Linked DNA regions of Homo sapiens: region 2 is linked to region 1. Evidence: fine-mapped expression QTL. Tissue or cell type: breast. Region 1 holds a variant in brackets; the other region holds the start of a gene. All regions are shown on one strand. Distances are from middle to middle.

Evidence for each region. PIP is the estimated chance that this variant, and not a neighbour inherited with it, causes the effect.
Region 2: it holds the start of TTC38, and the variant in region 1 is fine-mapped to the expression of TTC38 in breast (GTEx, PIP above 0.99).

Annotation. Positions count from the first base shown.
Region 1 is chr22:46,289,882-46,300,325 of GRCh38, forward strand. It overlaps TTC38 (tetratricopeptide repeat domain 38), which reads left to right. Exons shown (of 14, transcript NM_017931.4): 13 at 1-18; 14 at 2,910-4,127. The coding sequence ends at 3,003. It overlaps GTSE1 (G2 and S-phase expressed 1), which reads left to right and starts at 6,989. Exons shown (of 12, transcript NM_016426.7): 1 at 6,989-7,050; 2 at 7,499-7,598. The coding sequence starts at 7,520. It overlaps GTSE1-DT (GTSE1 divergent transcript), which reads right to left and starts at 6,779. Exons shown (of 1, transcript NR_024009.1): 1 at 5,262-6,779. RefSeq lists a silencer at 7,047-7,246 and an enhancer at 7,397-7,506. The variant C/T (reference allele first, on the strand shown) is at 4,215.
Region 2 is chr22:46,263,313-46,273,756 of GRCh38, forward strand. It overlaps TTC38 (tetratricopeptide repeat domain 38), which reads left to right and starts at 4,696. Exons shown (of 14, transcript NM_017931.4): 1 at 4,696-4,760; 2 at 5,202-5,279; 3 at 9,023-9,104. The coding sequence starts at 4,728. PKDREJ (polycystin family receptor for egg jelly) reads right to left here and starts at 31. Exons shown (of 1, transcript NM_006071.2): 1 at 1-31. The coding sequence starts at 10. RefSeq lists silencers at 4,593-4,752, 4,763-4,972.

The DNA of each region.
Region 1 (10,444 bases):
CCATAAGAACGTAGCCCGGTGAGCTCCTGGCCCCTGCCCAGCACTCCCGACCTTCACAGGCTCTCCCTGCAGACCTCAGGAGTGCCTGGAAGCCCCACCACCCTTGGCCCGAGATGCTCCTGCTTCTGAGGCTGTGAGGTCGGGAGGCTGTGGGGAATTTGGTTCTCCTTTGTTAGCAGGCTCAGTGTGACCAAGTGGAGCCAGCCCCACCCCAGGCCCAACCTCCCACCCTTCCCAGCCCACTCCCTTTTAGCCTTGCTAAGCTACCTGGGTACGTAAACACGTCCTGCTCTTTCAGGCTCCTGGGCCTTTGCACGCTTGGAACACCCTTTCTCCTTTTTTGCACCTGGCCGACACCTAATGCTCAGTTAGACCTCAGCTCATTTCACCTGCCTGCCTGTGCTGGGTACCGAGAGGGAGCAGTGAGCAGGCACACCAGTCACTGGCTACCAGGAGCCCATCTGTAGTCGGGGGAGCGACAGGGAGCAATCAGTCCCACAGACACGTAAACTCGCACTGAGGGAGCAGCAGCTGAGGGCAGACCCGAAACCACAGTGGGTTTAGCCAGGCCAGGCATGGGGCTGGTAGGAGGGTGGCGTGGCTGGAGGGTGAGTGTTAGGGTGGCATGGCTGGAGGGTGAGTGTGTTAGGGCAGCGTGGCTGGAGGGTGTTAGGAGGGTGGTGTGGCTGGAGGGTGAGTGTTAGGAGGGTGGCGTGGCTGGAGGGTGAGTGTTAGGAGGGTGGCGTGGCTGGAAGGTGTGTTAGGGTGGCGTGGCTGGAGGGTGAGTGTTAGGAGGGTGGTGTGGCTGGCAGGCGAGTGTCAGGAGGGTGGCATAGCTGGCAGATGAGAGTGCTGGGGGAACTCCAAAGAGCCCTCACCATTGCCAGCAGCCTTGGTGCTTCCATGGCCCAGCTTGCCTCCCTCCACTTAGGCTGCTGAGCTCTTGGCCAGCAGCTGCGTAGCCCGTGTGCCTGAGCGGCGAGTTTGACACCTCTCCTTGCCCATGTCCCTGCCACCCTCAGACATAAGTGAAAGGAAGAATAGAGGAGTCATGGGGTGCCTGGTGGGGAAGGTGTGCTGTGAGAGCAGGTGGCAGCCCGGGTCCACAGGAGGCCCTTGGCTGGTGACAAGCCCAGTGGTTTAGGCGCAGGTGCACCAGCGCAGCTCCCTCCAGGCAGGGTTACCCAAACTGAGCTGTACAGGTTCTGTGGTACTCATGAAACAGGTCTGGCTGGCAGCACTGGAACCGCCTAGAACTGTAAAATGTCTTGGACGCATGCTCCCCGCTTTCCCCTTCCATGGCTGTAGACAAAACCATGCGTGTTTCTTTGGTGGTCAAGCCCCCTGGGGAGCTCAGGCTGTGGTGTGGGTGGGAGTTGGTGCCTCTGGCAGCAGCGGTGGGGAAAGTGGCTGTGTGGACAGGAGGGCTGAGGATGGAGCTGGGGTGACATCTGTGGGGCAGTGCGGCAGTGCCGATGTGGCCTTCTGCGGGGCCCAGTGGGGGAGGGCAGGGGGAGAGCAGGCTGCACAGGGAGCCGACTGCATTAGGAGACGTGGAGGGGGCCTTCTCTCCAAGTCCTGTCCTGCTACCAGGCAGCATCCATGGGGCCATCAGCACAGCTCACCAGCCCCCAAGGTGGGAAACCTTCCACCCACAGCCATGGTGCCCCCCACAATGAGTTCCCGGCCCCAGCCCCTTCACACCACCCACGCCCTCTAGAACCACTGTTTTCAGGTGTTTGGGGGCTGTCTTAGTCAGTTTGGGTTGTTATTTTAAAAGTGCCACAGACAGGCCGGGCACGGTGGCTCATGCCTGTAATCCCAGCACTTTCGGAGGCCAAGGCGGGTGGATCACCTGAGGTCAGGAGTTCAAGACCAGCCTGGCTAATATGGTGAAACTCCGCCTCTACTAAAAATACAAAAAATTAGCCGGGCGTGGTGGTGGGTACCTGTAATCCCGGCTAGTCGGGAGCCTGAGGCAGGAGAATCGCTTGAACCTGGGAGGTGGAGGTTGCAGTGAGCCGAGATCGCGTCATTGCACTCCAGCCTGAGTGACCGAGGGAGATTCTATCTCAAAAAATTAAAAAATAAAAGTGCCACAGTCTGGGCGGCTTGCACAGTAGGCATGCACTGTCTCACAGTTCTGGAGGCTGGAATGTCCAGGAACAAGGCCTGGCTGGGTTCAGTTTCTGCTGAGGCCTCTCTTCCTGGCTTGTGGACAGCCACTTTCTTGCTGTGTCCTCACATGACCTTTCCTTTGAGTGCTAATTCTTTCACGTCTCTTCTTTCTTCTTTCTTTTTAAATTTTTTTATATTTTTAGAGGCAAGGTCTCACTCGGTCATCCAGGTTGGAATGCAGTGGTGTGATCACAGTTCACTGTAAACTCAAACTCCTGGGCTCAAGGAATCTTCCTGCCTCATCCTTCCATCGTGCAGGGATTACAGGGGTGAGCCACCACACCTATCTCTTCTTATAAGGGCACTAATCCCATTCACAAGGGCCCCACCCTCATGACTTAATCACCTCCAAGAGGCCCTGTTCTTAATACCATCACCTTGGGCATTTGGGCTTCAACATATACATTTAGCCTGGACACAGACATTCAGTCCACAGCAGGGTCTTTACCTCAAACCGTACCTGGGTCTTCTCTCTTCAAACCTGGGTTTTCCCCACTGCCACCTGTTGTGCCCCATCTCGGGTGTGGCTTCCTGCACTGGAGGTCTGTGCCCTCCCATCCTCACCTCTCCCCAAACTGAGGCCAGGCCTCCTGCCCCTGGGCCTTGGCCCTTGCTGTTCCCTCAGTGCCGCAGTCTAGCCTGCCTGTGTTCTGCCTTGGGACCAAGGGACCACCAGGCCCCACATCCCTCTAGAAGGTTCTGTAACAGGACCTCTGTGTCTGTTTCCACAGGAGCCTTCTGATGGAGCGTGATGCCTTGAAGCCCAACTCGCCCCTGACCGAGCGGCTCATCCGCAAGGCAGCTACCGTCCACCTCATGCAGTGAGCCAGCCTGGCCGCCTCCACCCTGCAGAACCTCAGTGGTGGCGTCACTGCGTCCAGTCAGCTGCTCCACCGGGTTAGGGTCAGGAGACGGCCAGAGCCTGTTTGTTAGGGCTGTTAGAGGGTGATCTTCAGTTTTACAGGAAGTGGGTCACGGGTTAATTTTAAATGTGATTCCGAATCTCCTTTCAGTCCTCGAGAAGGGCCAATGAGCATTTTTCAGCAGTCACAGCCAGTGTGAGTGCTGCTCTTTCCACCTGCCTTGCAAATTCTGTTTCCCAGGGGAATGTGTCTACTGCCTGGTGGTTCAAAGGTTGGAAGGCAGGGCAGAGGTGGGGGCTGATTCTGCTGGGACAGGTCTTCCAGAGGCAGCCTCCCCCCACTGCCTGTCCCCGTCCCCACCAGGCTGCCCTTGGGATGGACCTTTTCATTCTTTTCTTTATATTCTAGACAGTCTCTGTTGTCTCATTGTGTTGCTGTCCCATTTTTCAGGTGAGGGTACCGGGGTAGGGGAGTGGCCTGCCCAGGGTCACACTATGAGAGGCCCCCACCTGCTGCCTTTGGACGCAGCCCCCTGCTGCTGCATCCACCACCCTTCTTACAGATCAGCGCGCACATGGGGTCCTTCTGCTGTCTCTGGGGCGAGTCTTGGAGCCCCCTGGGGGGCTCTGTTGGTGCTGATTTGGACCCGTTTCTCTTTTTAAACTGCACATCATAACAGGGCTTCATGTCGAGCATGATTTTAATCATAAATGCACTTCTGAGGTGCAAGGATTGAGCTCAGAGCTGCTCTGTTGTGGCAAAACCCAAAGTGCTGTGATGTGTGGCTGTGACAAGCCTGGAGCGGGTCCTGTGAGCGCCGCCTCTGTCTCCTGCTTCCCCACTGAACGCCTGCTGAATGTGCCGCTGACTCAGCTGTGCTGCTTTCAGCCCTCCTGTGAGGGGCGGTCCCAGTGCACAGATGTTTTTCAAGTTCCTCAGTTTGTACTGAAATTAGGGATTCATCAGGGCAGGAAGCAGGCAGGCCTCTCAGAAGGGAGAGGAGGCCTCCAAATCTATTGAGTCCCCACAGTTTGCTCAAGCCCAGGCAAATTTCTGTGATTAAAATGAATTCATCAGTTCCTCCAAGTCTTTGAGCATCTGTGGTGCAGGCCTGGGGCTGGGTCCTGGGGAGATGGCTTCTCCTTGAACTTAAGGTAGGTGGGGCAGGCCAGG[C/T]GCAGTGGCTCACGCCTGTAATCCCACCACTTTGGGAGGCTGAGGTGGGTGGATCCCCTGATGTCAGGAGTTCGAGATCAGCCTGGCCAACATGGTGAAACCCTGTGTCTACTGAAAATACAAAAATTAGCTGAGCATGGTGGCACACGTCTGTAATCCCAGCTACTCGGGAGGCTGAGGCAGGAGAATCACTTGAACCTGGGAGGCAGTGATTGCAGTGAGCCAAGATCGTGCCATTGCACTGCAGTCTGGGCAACAGAGCGAGACTCCCATCTCAAGGGAAAAAAAAAAAAAAGTAGGTGGGGCATCTAGTCAAGAAAATGGGAGGTCGGGCGCAGTGGCTCACGTCTGTAATCCCAGCACTTTGGGAGGCTGAGGCAGGTAGATCACGAGGTCAGGAGATCAAGACCATCCTGGCTAACACGGTGAAACCCCATCTCTATTAAAAATACAAAAAATTAGCCGGGCATGGTGGTGGGCGCCTGTAGTCCCAGCTACTCGGGAGGCTGAGGCAGGAGAATGGCGTGAACCCGGGAGGCAGAGCTTGCAGTGAGCGGAGATCGCGCCACTGCACTCCAGCCTGGGCGACAAAGCAAGACTCCGTCTCAAAAAAAAAAAAAAAGAAAGAAAGAAAAGGGGTAATTATAGTAGTATTTCCAGAGAGGCGCCTTCTCTACCCAAGAACTAGGGACACATCCTAAGGGGAGCCTCCTTCCCCTCTCCTGGTTCCAAGCAAGAAGACATGACTTGGCTGTGCAATTGGGAACCCTGGTCCCTCCTCCAGGAAGCCTTCTACCCGCCAACCCCCACTGCAGGCTGGTGAGGGTGCTGCCTCTGTGCCCCTCAGCCCTTGGCACTTGCCCTTGCTCTTGCACCCCTGCCATGACCTCTCCAGGTCAGGGACAGCATCTGTCCCCAGCATCACCTGGCACATGGCCTGCACTGAGTAGCTGTCAGTGAAAGTTGGTGAATGAAGGCATAAATAAATGAAGTCAAACTCTGTATTAGGCCTTCTTGCATTGCTATGAAGAAATACCTGACGCTAGGTAATTTATAAAGAGGTTTAATTGGCTCACAGTTCTGCAGGCTTTTCAGGAAGTATGGTGCTGGCATCTGCTTCTGGTGCAACCTCAGGAAGCTTAAGATCATGACATAAGGTGATGGGGAGCCAGTATATCACATAGTGAGAGCAGGAGTAAGAGAGAAGGGGAGGTCTTAGACTCTTAAATAACCAGATCTTGTGTGAACTAAGCAAGAACTCATCACCAAGGGGATGGTGCTGAACCATTCATAAGGGATCTGCCCTCACGACCCAATTACTTCCCACCAGGCCCCACTTCCAACATTGGGATCACATTTCAACATGAGATTTTGAGGGGACACACATCCAAACTACAGCAAATCCTATTGGGGGCAGAAATGAATCTGCCATACATAGGCCACACCTACTATGTGCTGACATGATACAGGGAGAGGAGTATCAGGAATGACTGTTGGGGATCCCTCTGCCATTCTCCCATGAGCAGACATCCCCAGGATGAGCTGAGGGGAATGCAATGAGCAGGCCAAACTCTTTCCAAGCTGTTTGACCACACCCACCTACCCCAGCACTCTCAGCCCCTGCCTGGTGCCCTGTGCTGAGCTGGGTGAGGCTGGGGAGACTGGTGAGTGAGGGCTGCCCTGCCCTTTTTGAGCCCCCAGTCTTCTGGTGAAGGAACATAGCAACATGGAGTGATTGGTATGGATGATGCAAAACCAGGGACATGGGACCCAGAAGTGCCCGAGCCAGCCTGGAAGGCCTCTGCCCTGGGCCCCGGGTGGCTGTTTGCTGCACAGCTCTCCCCACAGCCTGCCCCAAATAAACAGCTTATCTTCGTCCCTGAAAATGGTGCTCTCGAGTTCCATCCTTTTCAGAGCGGGTCCTCCCAGACTCCTCTTCCTGCATCCTCCTCCATCCCGCTTAGTGACACTTTGCCGTGGGTGGAGCCCCTCATTTGATCCTCAAGCCCCCGAGGTGGGTATTATACCTCGTTCGCAGGCAAAGGCTCAAGCGAGGTCAGTCTTAAGTTGCTGCCCACTGACCCGTCTACCAGTCCTGTCCTTGCGTCTCCATGGCTCAGGTCAGGGTTATCCTATCTGCTTCCCACCTCTCTCCAACACATGCACTCCCCAAGGCAGGCTCCATCACCGGGCCCCAGCCCCTGGCTCTCTCCTCCAACGCAGCTCCCCAGCCGGCCTGTAAAACCGAGGACAGGCTCCCGCCACGCCCTCGGCGGTCCTCAGGCCTTGGCGGTTGGGGAAGCCCGCCAAGGGCGACGGTTCCCCTCCAGCCCCACAGGCTGTGCAGCTCCGGCAATGAGTCTCCCTCAGGTCTCTGGGTCAGCCGGCGCCCCAGTGCGTGCCTCGGGGGCAGGGATCCCGGCTTTTCACTACTGTTAGTAACAGCTCGCGCGCGCTGCTTCACAGCAGGTGGGTGAGCCTACTTTTAGTCTTCCCATCGACACCCTTAGATGGCAGTTTTAACTTTCTCCCTACACACAAGGAGCTGCTATACATGGTTCCGGCTTGACGCGGATACCTAGTGACACTTGGCGGCCAGGCCGGGCAGACTTCCGGGTGGGTGATCCCTGGCGCTGTGCGGAGCCATTCGCTGCGCTGAAGCAGTGCGCATGCGCACTGGACGCTTCTTACCAGCGTCCTGACTACAATACCCAGGACGCACCCAGCCCGCCGCCTCTCGGAGCCCTTTTCAAACCGACCAATCGGCAACCCGCGTCTCCCGGCGCCGCGTTTAAATCCGTGCCGGAGGCGCGTCCTGCATCGTCTGCCGCTTTGGGTAAGGTGGGGTCAGGGTCGGGGGCGAGGCTTGCCCGGTGGGCCCGGTGCGGCGCGGTGCCCGCCGTTTTCGGGACGGGGAGGGGCCGCGCCCCGCCAGGAGCCGGGCCTGGGCTCGAGCAGGGGTCACTGAGGCCCCTCGCGCCGTGGTCGGGGATGCCGGGAGGTCTAGGGCTGCCCCCCAGGCAAACAGAGCCCCCAACACTCTGGCCCAGAAGCCGAGAATTCCGTTATCTCGTCTGATGGCGTTCGGGCTGACTCCCGGCCTGGCGGCACTCGGGCCCTGGGGTCCCCTGGGATGCGATCATTTCAGAGCGGCCCCCGCGCCGCCTCTCCCAGACCTGGCCGCGGCCTTCAGCTCTCTCTGCCTCTGTGAGCCGAGGGCTGAAGGAAGCCGGAGCCCTGGGCCCTGACACGTACTCACTTTCTGGCCCCGTTCCACCCTGCAGTGACTTCTGACAGCTCTCTCCATGGAAGGAGGCGGCGGCCGCGATGAGCCTTCAGCCTGCCGGGCAGGGGACGTGAACATGGATGACCCTAAGAAGGAAGGCAAGTCCTTGCTGCTGCGGCGCTGTTGTTGTTCAGGATGTTCAGTAGAGATGGAGGGTGATTTAATGTTTCCCTGAGAAATTCTTTCTCAAGTGCTCGACTTGTACTCTGCACCTGTGAAACACATGACATCTGCCTTCGTTTTCTGGTTTTCTTTCACCTCCTCCCCATTTTAAGTTTCATCACAGCCAGGATTCTCATCCGTTTTATTTACCGCAGTGCTCCCATGCCCTGAACAGCACCTAACACTTTGTGGGCTCTCAAATATTTATTGTATTGAATTCGATGTTTTCTTTTTTGTTTGTCGCTGGTTTCTGTTTGCTAAGACTTATTTAGGATCTTTGAGACCATGTTAATGAGTAAGCCTGGCCCCAAACCCCTTTCTTCTTGTGTCTTTGACTGGTTTGGGTATCAAGGTGAGGGTACAGCTTCACAGAATGAGTTACAGGCCACACCCTCTTTTTCTCTCAAAGCGTTTTTATTTATTTATTTATTTATTTATTGACGGAGTCTCGCTCTCTCACCCAGGCTGGAGTGCAAAGGCGTGATCTGTACTCACTGCAACCTCTCTCTCCTGAGTTGAAGGGATTCTCCTGCCTCAGCCTCCCTAGTAACTGGGATTACAGGCACCCGCTGCCACACCTGGCTCATTTTTGTATTTTTAACAGAGACGGGGTTTTGCCATGTTGCCCAGGCTGGTCTCGAACTCCTGAGCTCAGGCAATCTGCCTGCCTCGGCCTCCCAAAGTGCTAGGATTATAGGTGTGAGCCACCTCACCCAGCCTCACAAAGCATTTTGACATCCCTTGGGTAGTTTTCTCACACTACCCAAGGATCCTTTCTTTTTGAGACCAAGTCTCACTCTGTCTCCCAGGCTGGAGTGCAGTGGCATGATCTTGGCTCACTGCAACCTCTGCCTTTCGGGTTCAAGCGATTCTCCTGCCTCAGCCTCCCGAGTAGCTGGGATTACAGGCACCCGCCACCACACCTGGCTGATTTTTGTATTTTTAGTAGAGATGGGGTTTTACCATGTTGGCCAGGCTGGTCTCAAACTCCTGACCTCAGGTGATCCACCTGCCTAGGCCTCCCAAAGTACTGGGATTACAGGTGTGAACCACCGCGCCTGGCCCCAAGCATCCTCAATGCCTCCATTTTGCAGGAACTGTCCTGGAGACTTTACAAATCAATGTTGCATCTTCATATCTAGCAAGGCGCTTGCCTCTGCACCCCTCTCCTCCTTCCTGTCATGTCCTTCCTTTCAAATATGTCCTTTCCACGTGCATACTGCACCCCCTGCTCCTTCTTGAGGCCTTCCCCACTTCCGTTGACCTGACTTCATTTCCTTACTTTTCCCCTGTCCACTACTGGATCATGCGCATCCACATACAGATAATGTTCCCTTGTCTCACTTGTCGCCACGTCTCCTCCGTTGCCTCTCCATTGCTGTGTTTCTCCTTCCAAGCCAAACTTTGAGAGCTTTCTCACTTGTTATGCCATTTTTTTCCGCCTCTCAATCCCTCCCATTCCGGCTTCTGTCCTTACCACTCCATTCAAGCTGCTTTCATCAGTCGTTGACGACTTCCACATTGCTGAATCTCTTTTCACTTTTCTATCGCCAGTCAGCTTTTCAGTAACATTCGTCCTTCTGGAAACTTCCCTTGCTTGGAGTCCAAGACGCTCTTGGTTTTTTCCTCCTGCCTCTCTGGCTGGTGTATCTTTTCTCTGTCGGGGGCTCCCCCTCTGCTGTCTTCTGAGGCTGATTTCCCCAAGACCTGCTCTGGGACCGCTTTGTGCTTTCGCCCTCAGGGCGGTCAGCATTCCAATAGCTGTGCAGCGTATCTGCTCTCTGCGGCACCCACGTTTTGTCTTGAGCGCAGCCTCTCCTCCGAGCTCTGGGCTTGTATATTCACCTGCCTATTTGGCGTCTTCACATGCACGTCTCATCTCAAACTTGGCATACCCCCTCTGCATCTGCATACCCTGTTCTTTTTGTCTTTCTCATCACCCATTTTATTTCTCCATTTCACCCAGCTGTGCAAGCTGAGAACCTCCTACATTCATGCCATCACCAGCTAACGTCTTCTCCACCTTCAGAAGATATCCTGAATCCATCTACAGACTCTCCATCTCCATCCACATGCTGCTGTCTGGGTCTCAGCCACGCTGTCTCACCGGCTTCTACTTCCCGTTGGCTAATATGTGCATTTGTAATGTCAGGGGATATTATCTGCTTCCTTTCGGATACACTTTCTACACAGTAACGTCACCTTTTAAAAACACAAGTTAGATTATAAAGCTCTTTTCTTTTCTTTTTTCTTTTTCTTTTTTTTTTTTGAGACAGAGTCTCACTGTTGGCCAGGCTGGAGTGCAGTGGCGTGATCTCGGCTTACTGCAACCTCCGCCTCTTGGGTTCAAGCAATTCTCCTGCCTCAGCCTCCTGAGTATCTGGGACTACAGGCGCCCGCCACCACGCCCAGCTAATTTTTTTTTTTTTTTTTTTTTTTTTAGTAGAGATGGGGTTTCACTGTGTTAGCCAGGATGGTCTCAATCTCCTGACCTCGTGATCTGCCCGCCTGGGCCTCCGGAAGTGCTGGGATTACAGGCATGAGCCACTGTGCTCAGCCTTTTTTTTCTTTTTGAGATGGAGTCTCGTTCTGTCACCAGGCTGGAGTGCAGTGGCGACATCTTGGCTCACTGCAACCTCCGTCTCCTGGGTTCAAGTGATTCCCCTGCCTCAGCCTCCTGAGTAGCTGGGATTAAAGGCATGAGCCACCGTGCCCAGCTAAGTTTTGTATTTTCAGTAGAGACGGGGTTTCACCATGTTGGTCAGGACGGTCTCGAACTCGA
Region 2 (10,444 bases), 27 kb before region 1:
CAGGCCTCATGGCGCCGGCCCAGGAGAAGCTGGGAGAGGCCGCGAGGCGCGCCCAACCGCCACCGGGGTCGCGGGGATAGTGAGGGTCTTGGGGACAGTGGGGGTCTCGGGCGTCGAAGGGCGCTGGCAGAGGGGTCCCAGGGACAGAGTCCCAGAGAGCAGCTGGGACCTCGGAGCTTGGGGTCAGTCGGCACTGGGGACTTCTTGGGTACCTCTTCCCTCTCCGTCCCCAAGTGTGTGCAGGCCCAGGGTCAGGATGGCTCAGGAGGGCAGTTCAGCCCCGTGCAGACCACAGAGCTGACCACGGAGAAGGGGCTTCAGCAGGAACCCTTGGGAAAGCCAGTCACAAAATGGGAGATCAGGAGGGAACCGTGAGATCCCTGGGCGCCCAGGAAGGTCTGACTCTCGGTTTCTTACTTTGGGGTCGCTTTGCTCTTTTCTTTCTAGTTGGTTTGGGGGTTTTGTTTTTTGTTTGTTTGTTTGTTTGTTTGTTTTTTGAGACGGAGTCTCTGTCACCCAGGCTGGAGTGCAATGGCTTGACCTCAAGTGATCCACCCACCTCGGCCTCCCAAAGTGCTGGGATTACAGGCATGAGCCACTGTGCCTGGCCTCATTCTTTAACTCTGTCCATTTTTGCTGTATATTTTGGGACTTGATTGATGGATTGAATGATTTTAGAGACAGGGTCTTGCTCTGTTGCCCAGGCTGGAGTGCAATGGTGCAATCATAGCTGACTGTAACCTTGAACTCCTGGGCTCAAGGAATCCTCCTGCCTCAGCCTCCCATACTACAGGTCTACACCACTACACCTGACTGATTTATTTTTTATTTTTGTAGAGATGGTGTCTTGCTGTGTTTCACAGGCTGGTCTCAAACTCGTGGTCTTAATTGGCCCTCCCCTGTATTAGTCCGTTTTCATGCTGCTGATAAAGACATAACCAAGACTGGGAAGAAAAAGAGGTTTAATTGGACTTACAGTTCCATATGGCTGGGGAGGCCTCAGAATCATGGCAGGAGGCAAAAAGCACTTCTTGCATGGCAGTGGCAAGAGAAAATGAGGAAGACGCAAAAGCGGAAACCCCTGATAAAAGCATCAGATCTCCTGAGACTTATTCACTACCACAGAACAATATGGGGGAAACTGCCCCTGTGATTCAGTTATCTCCCACCCGGTCCCTCCCACAACATGTGGGAATTATGGGACTATAAGATGAGATTTGGGTGGGGACACAGAGCCAAACTATATCATTCCACCCCTGCCAAATCTCATCTCCTCACATTTCAAAACCAATCATGCCTTCCCAACAGTCCTCCAAAGTCTTAACTCATTTCACATTAACTCAAAAGTCCACAGTCCAAAGTCCTGTCTGAGACAAAGGAAGTCGCTTATGCTTATGAGCCTGTAAAATCAAAAGCAACTGGCTGGGCGCAGTGGCTCACCCTGTAATCCCAGCACTTCGGGAGGCTGAAGCGGGCAGATCACCTGAGCTTGGGAGTTTGAGACCAGCCTGACCAACATGGAGAAACCCCATCTCTACTAAAAATACAAAATTAGCCGGGTGTGGTGGTGCATGCCTGTAATCCCAGCTACTCGGGAGGCTGAGGCAGGAGAATCGCTTGAACCCGGGAAGCAGAGGTTGCGGTGAGCCAAGATCGTGTCATTGCACTCCAGCCTGGGCAACAGGAACGAAACTCTGTCTCAAAAAACAGAAAAAAAATCAAAAGCAAGTTAGTTATTTCCTAGATACAGTGGGGTACAGACATTGGGTAAAGACAACCATTCCAAATGGGAGAAATTGGCCAAACAAAGGAGTTATAGGGCCCATGCAAGTCTGAAATCCAGTGGGGCAGTCAAATCCTAAAGCTCCAAAATTATCTCCTTTGACTTCATGTCTCAAATCCAGCTCATGCTGATGCAAGAGGTGGGTTCCTATGGTCTTGGGCAGCTCCGCCCCTGTGGCTTTGCAGGGTACAGCCTCCCTCCTGGTTGCCTTCGTGGGCTGGTGTTGAGTGTCTGCAGCTTTTCTAGACTCATGGTGCAAGCTGTTGGTGAATCTACCATTCTAGGGTCTGGAGGATGGTGGCCCTCTTCTCACAGCTCCACTAGGCGGTGCCCCAGTAGGGACTCTGTGTGGGGGCTCTAACCCTACATTTCCCTTCCACACTGCCCTAGCACAGGTTCTCCATGAGAGCCTTCCCCCTACAGTAAACTTCTGCCTGGCATCCAGGTGTTGCCATATATCTTCTGAAATCTAGGCAGAGGTTCCCAAACCTCAATTCTTGACTTCTGTGCAACTGCAGGCTCAACACCACATGGAAGCTGCCAAGGCTTGGGGCTTGCAATCTCTGAAGCCACAGCCCGAGCTCTACATTGGCCTTTTTCAGCCACAGCTGGAGCAGCTGGGACACAGGGCACCAAATCCCTAGGCTGCACACAGCTTGGGGACCCTGGGCCCAGCCCACAAAACCACTTTTTCCTCCTGGGCCTCCAGGCCTGTGATGGGAGGGGCTGCCATGAAGACGTCTGACATGCCCTGGAGACCTTTTCCCCATTGTCTTGGGGATTAACATTTGGCTGCTTGTTATTTATACAAATTTCTGCAGCTGGTTTGAATTCTCCTCAGAAAATGGAATTTTCTATCACATTTTCGGTCTGCAAATTTTTCAAACTTTTATGCTCTGTTTCCCTTTTAAAACCGAATGCTTTTAACAGCATCCAAGTCACTTCTTGAATGCTTTGCTGCTTAGAAATTTCTTCTGCCAGATACCCTAAATCATCTCTTTCAAGTTCAAAGTCCCACAAATCTCTAGGGCAGGGGCAAAATGCTGCCAGTCTCTTTGCTAAAACATAACAAGCATCACCTTTGCTCCAGTTCCTCATCCCCATCTGAGACCACCTCAGCCTGTACCTTATTGTCCATATCACTATCAGCATTTTGGGCAAAGCCATTCAACAAGTATCTGGGAAGTTCCAAAATTTCCCACATACTCCTGTCTTCTGAGCCCTCCAAACTGTTCCAACCTCTGCCTGTTACCCAGTTCCAAAGTTGCTTCCACATTTTCAGGTATATTTTTGGCAACACCCCACTCTAATGGTACCAATTTACTGTATTAGTCCATATTAGTACTCAGCTCAAGTGCAAAATTTAAGGGTGGAGGGGCACCAAAAACTCAATAATCAAGACAAATTCTCTTTTATTGAGGTAAAGTTCACATAAAAGTAACCATTTATGGGAGGCTGAGGTGGGAGGATTGCTGGAGCCAGGAGTTCAAGGCTTCAGTGACTTATCATCCCTATCCCCTCAGTCCCTGGTCACCACCAATCTTCTTTCTGTCTCTATGTTTGCGTATTCTGGACATGCATGTAAATGCACTAATACAAGTGTTACCTTTTGTGTCTGCCTCTTCCTTCAGTATGAATGAACCTTGAAAACGCTGTAGGAAAGGTGTGTCTTCTTTGGAGAACTGTCACCTCAAATTCTTTGCCCACTTTAAATTTGGGCTGTTTGTCATTTCGCTGTTGAGTTGTAAGAATTCTTTTTTTTTGAGACAGAGTCTGGCTCTGTTGCCCAGGTTGGAGTGCAGTGGCACAATCTTGGCTTACTCCAACCTCCACTTCCCGGGTTCAAGCGATTCTCCTGCCTCAGCCACCCAAGTAGTTGGGATTACAGGCATGCACCACCACGCCTGGCTATTTTTGTACTTTTAATAGAGATAAGGTTTCACCATGTTGGCCAGGCTGGTCTTGAACTCCTGACCTCAGGTGATCCACCTGACTCAGCCTCCCAAAGGGCTGGGATTACAGACATGAGCTGCTGTGCCCGGCCAAGATTTCTTTATGTATTCTGGATTCTAGACTCTTACCCAATATATGATTTACAAATGTTTTTTCCCATTGTGTTAATCTTTTCAGTTTCCTGAGTAGTGTCCTTTGATTCAGAAAAGTTTTTAATTTTGACGAAGTCCAACTTATCTATTTTGTTGTTGTTGCTTGTCCTTTTGGTGTTACATCTAAGAATCCATTGCTAAATCCAAGGCCATGAAGATTTACTTCTGTTTTCTTCTAAGAGTTTTATCTTTACAGCTCTCACATAAAACAAATAATACTTCAGTGCAATATTTCAAAAATCAAAACTAATGCAAAAAGTCCATGATGAACAAAATAGCATTTTAAATAAAGGCCAGATCTGCCCGTGCACTTGGTTCTACGCCCTTGATTCGTGCACCCTGGGGCGGGGGCAAATTAAACTAGGGGAGCCCATTGGACTGGGGCTGGTGTGTGGCTGATGGCAGAGTTCAGGCCGGGCCAGACCGGGCCAGTCCAGAGGGAGAAGCCGCTACTGCAGGAGACAGAGCGATTTTTCCGCTGCAAATCCTTGAGAAGGGAGGATGGAGGCGGCGGGACGACCCAGTGAAGCCGGCCCCGAACGCCAAGTGAGTGTGTGCCGTGCGCGCGCGGGTAGCTGCCGACCGCAACGACATAAACTTGAAAGTGACCGCTGTCCCGGAGCTCCCTGCTCCCAAGGGACCCGTCGCGTTGCAGAGTTGTCCGGTCGGGCCTCTGGGGCGGGCCCGGATCCTGGACCAGGGCCAGTCTGTCCGAAACCCACCAGTGAGCGAGCGGGAGAGCGCGGCCGCCCCGCCCCGCCCCTTTCCGCGACCGCCCCGCCCACTCCCAGGAAGGCCCGGGTGCCCAGAGCTCGCGGTGGACTCCGACCCGGCGCAACATGGCCGCAGCCTCGCCTCTGCGCGACTGCCAGGTACACGGAGGCTGCCCCCAACCAGGTCCCCCTCGGGCCCCGGGTCCTGGGGGTGGCCCGGTGCTGGCGGAATAACGGGAGACATGGCCCGGGCGCGGGGCGTGGGGTGAGCCCTGGGCGCACGGGCGCGTCCGCGGCAACGCCTGGAAGGGACCCGAGGCCCTTCTTGTAGAGTCCCCACCGAGGGAAATAAGGGACGCCTGTCAGGGTACTCGGGAGACCCCAAGACCTCCTAAAAAACGTAGCTCACTGGGCATGGCTGGGGACGCAGGGAAGCCCGCAAAGGTAAGGGGCTCCTTGGAACCGGCCCAGGACTGGGAGCCTGAGCCCATTTTACAGATGAGGAAGGTGGAGGTCAGAGGGGCCAGGAGACGTGTGTGTGTTGAAGTTTGAAGGGCTCCTGGAGAGAAGGCACTGCTATTCCCTTCTTGCCGTCTGTAGGCCTGGAAGGATGCGAGGCTCCCGCTCTCCACCACAAGCAACGAAGCCTGCAAGCTGTTCGATGCCACGCTGACCCAGGTATGCCTGCCGAGAGAGGCCGCGGCCCCTTCTGTGGAGGTCTAGGGGAAGGTTTTTTAATTGGGGAAAGCTGTTTTTTTGTTTTGTTTTGTTTTGTTTTGTTTTGTTTTTGAGGCGGAGTCTCGCTCTGTCGCCCAGGCTGGAGTGCAGTGGCGCTATTTCGGCTCACTGCAAGCTTTGCCTCCCGGGTTCACGCCATTCTCGTCCCTCAGCCTCCCGAGTAGCTGGGACTACAGGCGCCCGCCACTGCCCTCGACTAATTTTTTTTGTATTTTTTAGTAGAGACGGGGTTTCACCGTGTTAGCCAGGATGGTCTCGATCTCCTGACCTCGTGATCCGCCCGCCTCGGCCTCCCAAAGTGCTGGGATTACAGGCGTGAGCCACCGCGCCCGGCCATGGGGAAAGCTTTTTAAATTGCGCCATGACCTTAGCAATAGATGGCAGCACATCTGTGCACTTTGTACTGGAGGACGTGGGAGGGTGGGGACATATCTCTGCCCCCCCCCCACAGCGTCCTAAAAGGGCCTCTGCACTCTCCCTTCTTCCCCAGGACTCTGAGTGGTGGGTGGACAGCGGTGGGTGCAGTGGGGATGTTTTTTGAGGATGCTGGCCTCCCCGGGCCTCCCATTGTGGCCTGCTGAGGGTCTGATGCAGGGCTCGGCTGCTTAGGACGTGGGATCCTGTCCTGGGATGAATCTGTGAGTATACTGCCTTCACCTAGGCTGTGCCAAGACCTTCTGCCACATTACCAGTCATTTCTCTACCAATGAAGGGTCCTATAGTTTTAGAACTAGGAGAAGTCTCAGAAGTAAGATCCAACTAGCTTCCTTGACAAGTGGGGAAACTGAGGCTCAGAGTTGAACCTACTTGACTTGAAGGTTGTCCATGAATTACAGGCAGAACCAGGATGAACCTGGGCCTAACTGCACTGATAGAAACCTAAGCTGACCTTGGCGTGGGTGGTGAGGCCCCTGCATACTGACTTCATCCACATAACAGGAGGACTCAGGTAGCTCTTAGAAGCCTACGGGCTGAACAAGAGAGGACTGATGGAATGCTGTGAGCTGCGCCATGGGTGCCTCTCCTGTTCCCAGCCTGCCCTGCCAAGGGACTCTGCTGTGGGCATCTGAGTTGTTTGTTTATTTTGTGTTTGACCTGGCTCACTTGCCCTTCCTGTATCTCGCCGGCCTCTGTAGAGTACTCGATTTGTTTTTTGTTTGAGACGGAGTCTTGCCCTGTCACCCAGGCTGGAGTGCAATGGCGCAGTCTTGACTCACTGCAAACTCTGCCTCTCGGGTTCAAGCGATTGCCCTGCCTCAGCCTCCGAAGTAGCTGGGATTATAGGCACGCACCATCATACCCAGCTGATTTTTTGTATCTTTAGTAGAGACGGGGTTTCACCATGTTGGTCAGGATGGTCACAAACTCCTGACCTTGTGATTCCCCTGCCTTGGCCTCTCAAAGTGCTGGGATTACAGGCGTGAGCCACTGTGCCCGGCCCCTAGTACTCAGTTTGTTACACACCACATCCCCAATCAGTGGCAGCTCATCCTCCCAGCCTGGGTATATTTTGTCCCGTGTATTGGTGTCTCTGTGCTGTCCTGTGTTAGAACTTGGCTTCTTTAAATCTCTGTGCCAACCCTCCTGTATCTTGTCAAAATGCTTGCGTAGCTTATAGTCTCAGCTATTTGGGAGGCTGAGGCAGGGGGATTGCTTGAGCCTGGGCGGTTGAGACTGAAGTGAGCTGTGATTGTGCCACTGTACTCCATCCTGGGCAACAGAGCAAACCCTGTCTTAAAAAAAAAATACACGTACTAATTCTGTGTAGATGTAGGTTAGACAGCTGAAAGGGCATATTTTAAAATCTAATGTGTGATTATAGGTCTAGGACTTTTTTTAAAACAGGCATTTGAGTAAAGGACCAGGTACAAATACAGCAAATTGTTAAAAATGATGATGCGCTGGGCGCGGTGACTCACGCCTGTAATCCCAGCACTTTGGGAGGCTGAGGCAGGTGGATCATCTGAGGTCAGGAGTTCAACACCAGCCTGGCCAACATGGTGAAACCCTGTCTCTACTAAAAATATAAAAAAATTAGCCGGGCATGGTGGCATGGGCCTGTAATCCCAGCTACTCGGGAGGCTGAGGCAGAGGAATTCTTGAACCAGGGAGGTGGAGGTTGTAGTGAGCTGAGATAGTGCCACTGCCTTCCAGCCTGGGTGACAGGGCAAGACTCCATCTCAAAAAAGAAAAAAAAAAAATTAGCCGGGCGCAGTGGTGCACACCTGTAATCCCAGCTACTAAGGAGGGATTCTCCTACCAAGGCAGGAGAATTGCTTGAAACCTGGAGGCAGAGGTTGCAGTGAGCCAAGATCGTGCCATTGCACTCCAGCCTGGGTGACAGGGCAAGATTCTGTCTCAATTAAAAAAAAAATGATAAAATGAGCTTTGGGTAAGTTTTATCTTTCAGCTTTTGTGTCTTTCTAACTCTCTAAAATAAATGTTTTCTGTGAATATTTTTAAAACGAATGAATAAGAAGCAGGAATATTCCTATCGTGACCAACTTCAGGGCTCCTCTTAGGGCAGAAGAAGCCGATGTGGAGCAGGTCACCTGTCAGGAGGAACCTGCCTTTTCTTTCTTTTCTTTTTTCTTTTTTTTCTTTTTTGAGACAGAGTCTCACTCTGTCGCCCAGGCTGGAGTGCAGTGGCGCCTGGGTTCACGCCATTCTCCTGCCTCAGCCTCCCGAGTAGCTGGGATTACAGGCGCCCACCACCACACCCGGCTGATTTTTTGTATCTTTAGTAGAGACGGGGGTTTCACCGTGTTAGCCAGGATGGTCTCGATCTCCTGACCTCATGATCCGCCCACCTCGGCCTCCCAAAGTGCTGGGCTTACAGGCATGAGCCACCACACCTGGCCTTTTTTTTTCCTTTTCTCTGTCACCCAGGCTGGGGTGCAGTGGCACGATCTCAGCTCACTGCAACCTCTACCTCCCAGGTTCAGGCGATTCTCCTGTCTCAGCCACCCAAGTCTCAGCCGCCCAAGTTGCTAGGACTACAGACATGTGCCACCACGCCTGACTAATTTTTGTATTATTTGTAGAGACAGAGTTTTGCCATGTTGGCCAGGCTGGTCTCAAACTCCTGCCCTCAAGTGATCCACCCGCCTCAGTCTTCCAAAGTACTGGGATTACAGGCGTGAGCCATCGCGCCCAGCCAGAACCTGCCTTTTGATGTTTCTTTTTTGGAAATGCAGCATCCCTAGCCCTAGAAAGTGTGCCTTGGGTGATGTGTATTTCATTTCTTCGTATGAAGAAAGTTATCAGCCAGGTTATGCCTTCTTTGGGTTAGAGTCCAGAAAATACTCAGTGTTCTACAAAGAAAAACAAATCTGGATTTATTTTTATTTTTTGTTTTTTGAGACAGTCTCTCTCTGCCATCCAGGCTGGAGTGCAGTGGCACAATCTTGGCTCATTGCAACCTCAGCCCCCGGGTTCAAGTGATTCTCATGCCTCTGCCTACCAAGTGGCTGGGACTACAGGCATGCACCACCACGCCCCACTAATTTTTCTATTTTTAGTAGAGATGGGGTTTTACCGTGTTGGTCAGGCTGGTCTCGAACTCCTGACCTCAGATGTTCTGCCCGCCTCGGCCTCCCAAAGTGTAAACCTGGATTTAGAGCCACCTTTGTTAGAATGATCCAAGGGCTCCGTGAGGACTTGTTTTGCTTTTCCCATTTCAGTATGTAAAATGGACCAATGACAAGAGTCTCGGTGGCATCGAGGGCTGCCTGTCAAAGCTCAAAGCAGCAGATCCAACCTTTGGTGAGTAACGCCTTCCCTGGGTGGAGGAGCCCCGCTTCACACATCCAGCCCCTCTCTTTCCTTTACCACAGGGACACAGTTGGGATGGGGAAGGCAGGTTGGGTGGCAGCAACCAGGGTGGCATTTGCACAGAGGGAGAGAAGATGACAGCTGCCTTTGTGTCTGGAAAAACAGTCACTCCCATAAAGATGCCAGGTTCTATCAGAAGGCATTTTTCTCATCTTTTCTTTAATTACCATCAATTCGGGAATGAAGATGCTGATCTCATTTCTCAGATGAGGAAACTGAGGGTTGGCAAGAGTAAGACTGTACTTAAAGCCACCCAGCTGGTGGTTGACCCCTGGGATTAGATAAAGCTTCCTGAATCCAAGGCCCAGACCCCTGGAACATGAGAGGTGGCTGCTGCAGCCTCCGTCAGGGGACCAGTGAGGCCTCATCCAGAGTGGCCAGGGTGAGGTGGTGACAGAGGCTGGCATCCAGGCAAGCCATGTGTACAGCGGGCATGGGGAAGCCAGCACAGTGCATTGCAGGTGGGTGGTCCCGTGGTGCGGCAAGGTTCCGGGCCTGGGAGAAGGTCTGATGAGGGGACAGGGCTCTTGTCAGTGCGGCAGGGACACCCTTCTCACCCTGCTGCAGCCTAGTCAGACTTAAGGCAGGGGACTTGTACTGCCCTGGAGAAGACAAACAAGGAAATAACTGGGGGAGAACGGGGGAGCCAAACCCAGTCATGGGGAGCCAGGAGCCAGGGGTGGGCTCGGACTCTCTGAGCAGACCTTGAGCCCTGATCAGGGGGCTTCGACCACCTGAATCATCAGCTGGGCTGGGCTGGGCTCGACCATCGGAATCACCAGCTGTTTTCCAGGGTCCACATGGGTGGTCCTAGCACACTATGGTTGGGTCCTGGGTCCCAGGCCTGAGCCAGTGACCAAGTTCCAAATGCCAGTGGACACCCTGGCTCTCCCACAGTGGGGCCTGGGGGCCTGCACTCCTGCCAGCAAGGCTGCTGCGAGGGCCACAAGGCACTCACCCCCACCCTAACTTTTAGCATGTGTGAGCAGCACAGATGGGATCATGACTTCTGTGCTCCGGGGCCTCCTTGGTCCAGCCCCTTATGAGCAGCATCCACTGATGCCTCCCGGGAGCCGTGTGCTGGCTGTGGCGGTAGTGTCAGCTGATGAGCCTGCAGGCAGCCTCTAAGTGGCTCATCCATTGAAGGGGGAAGGTGCTTTAGACACTGGCACTCAGCAGAATGCCCTCACTAGAAAAATGTTCAAGGGTGCCTTTAGGCTTGCAGTTCCCTCCATGCTTGACAAGAGCCGAGGCTGAGTTCTAGACAGTAG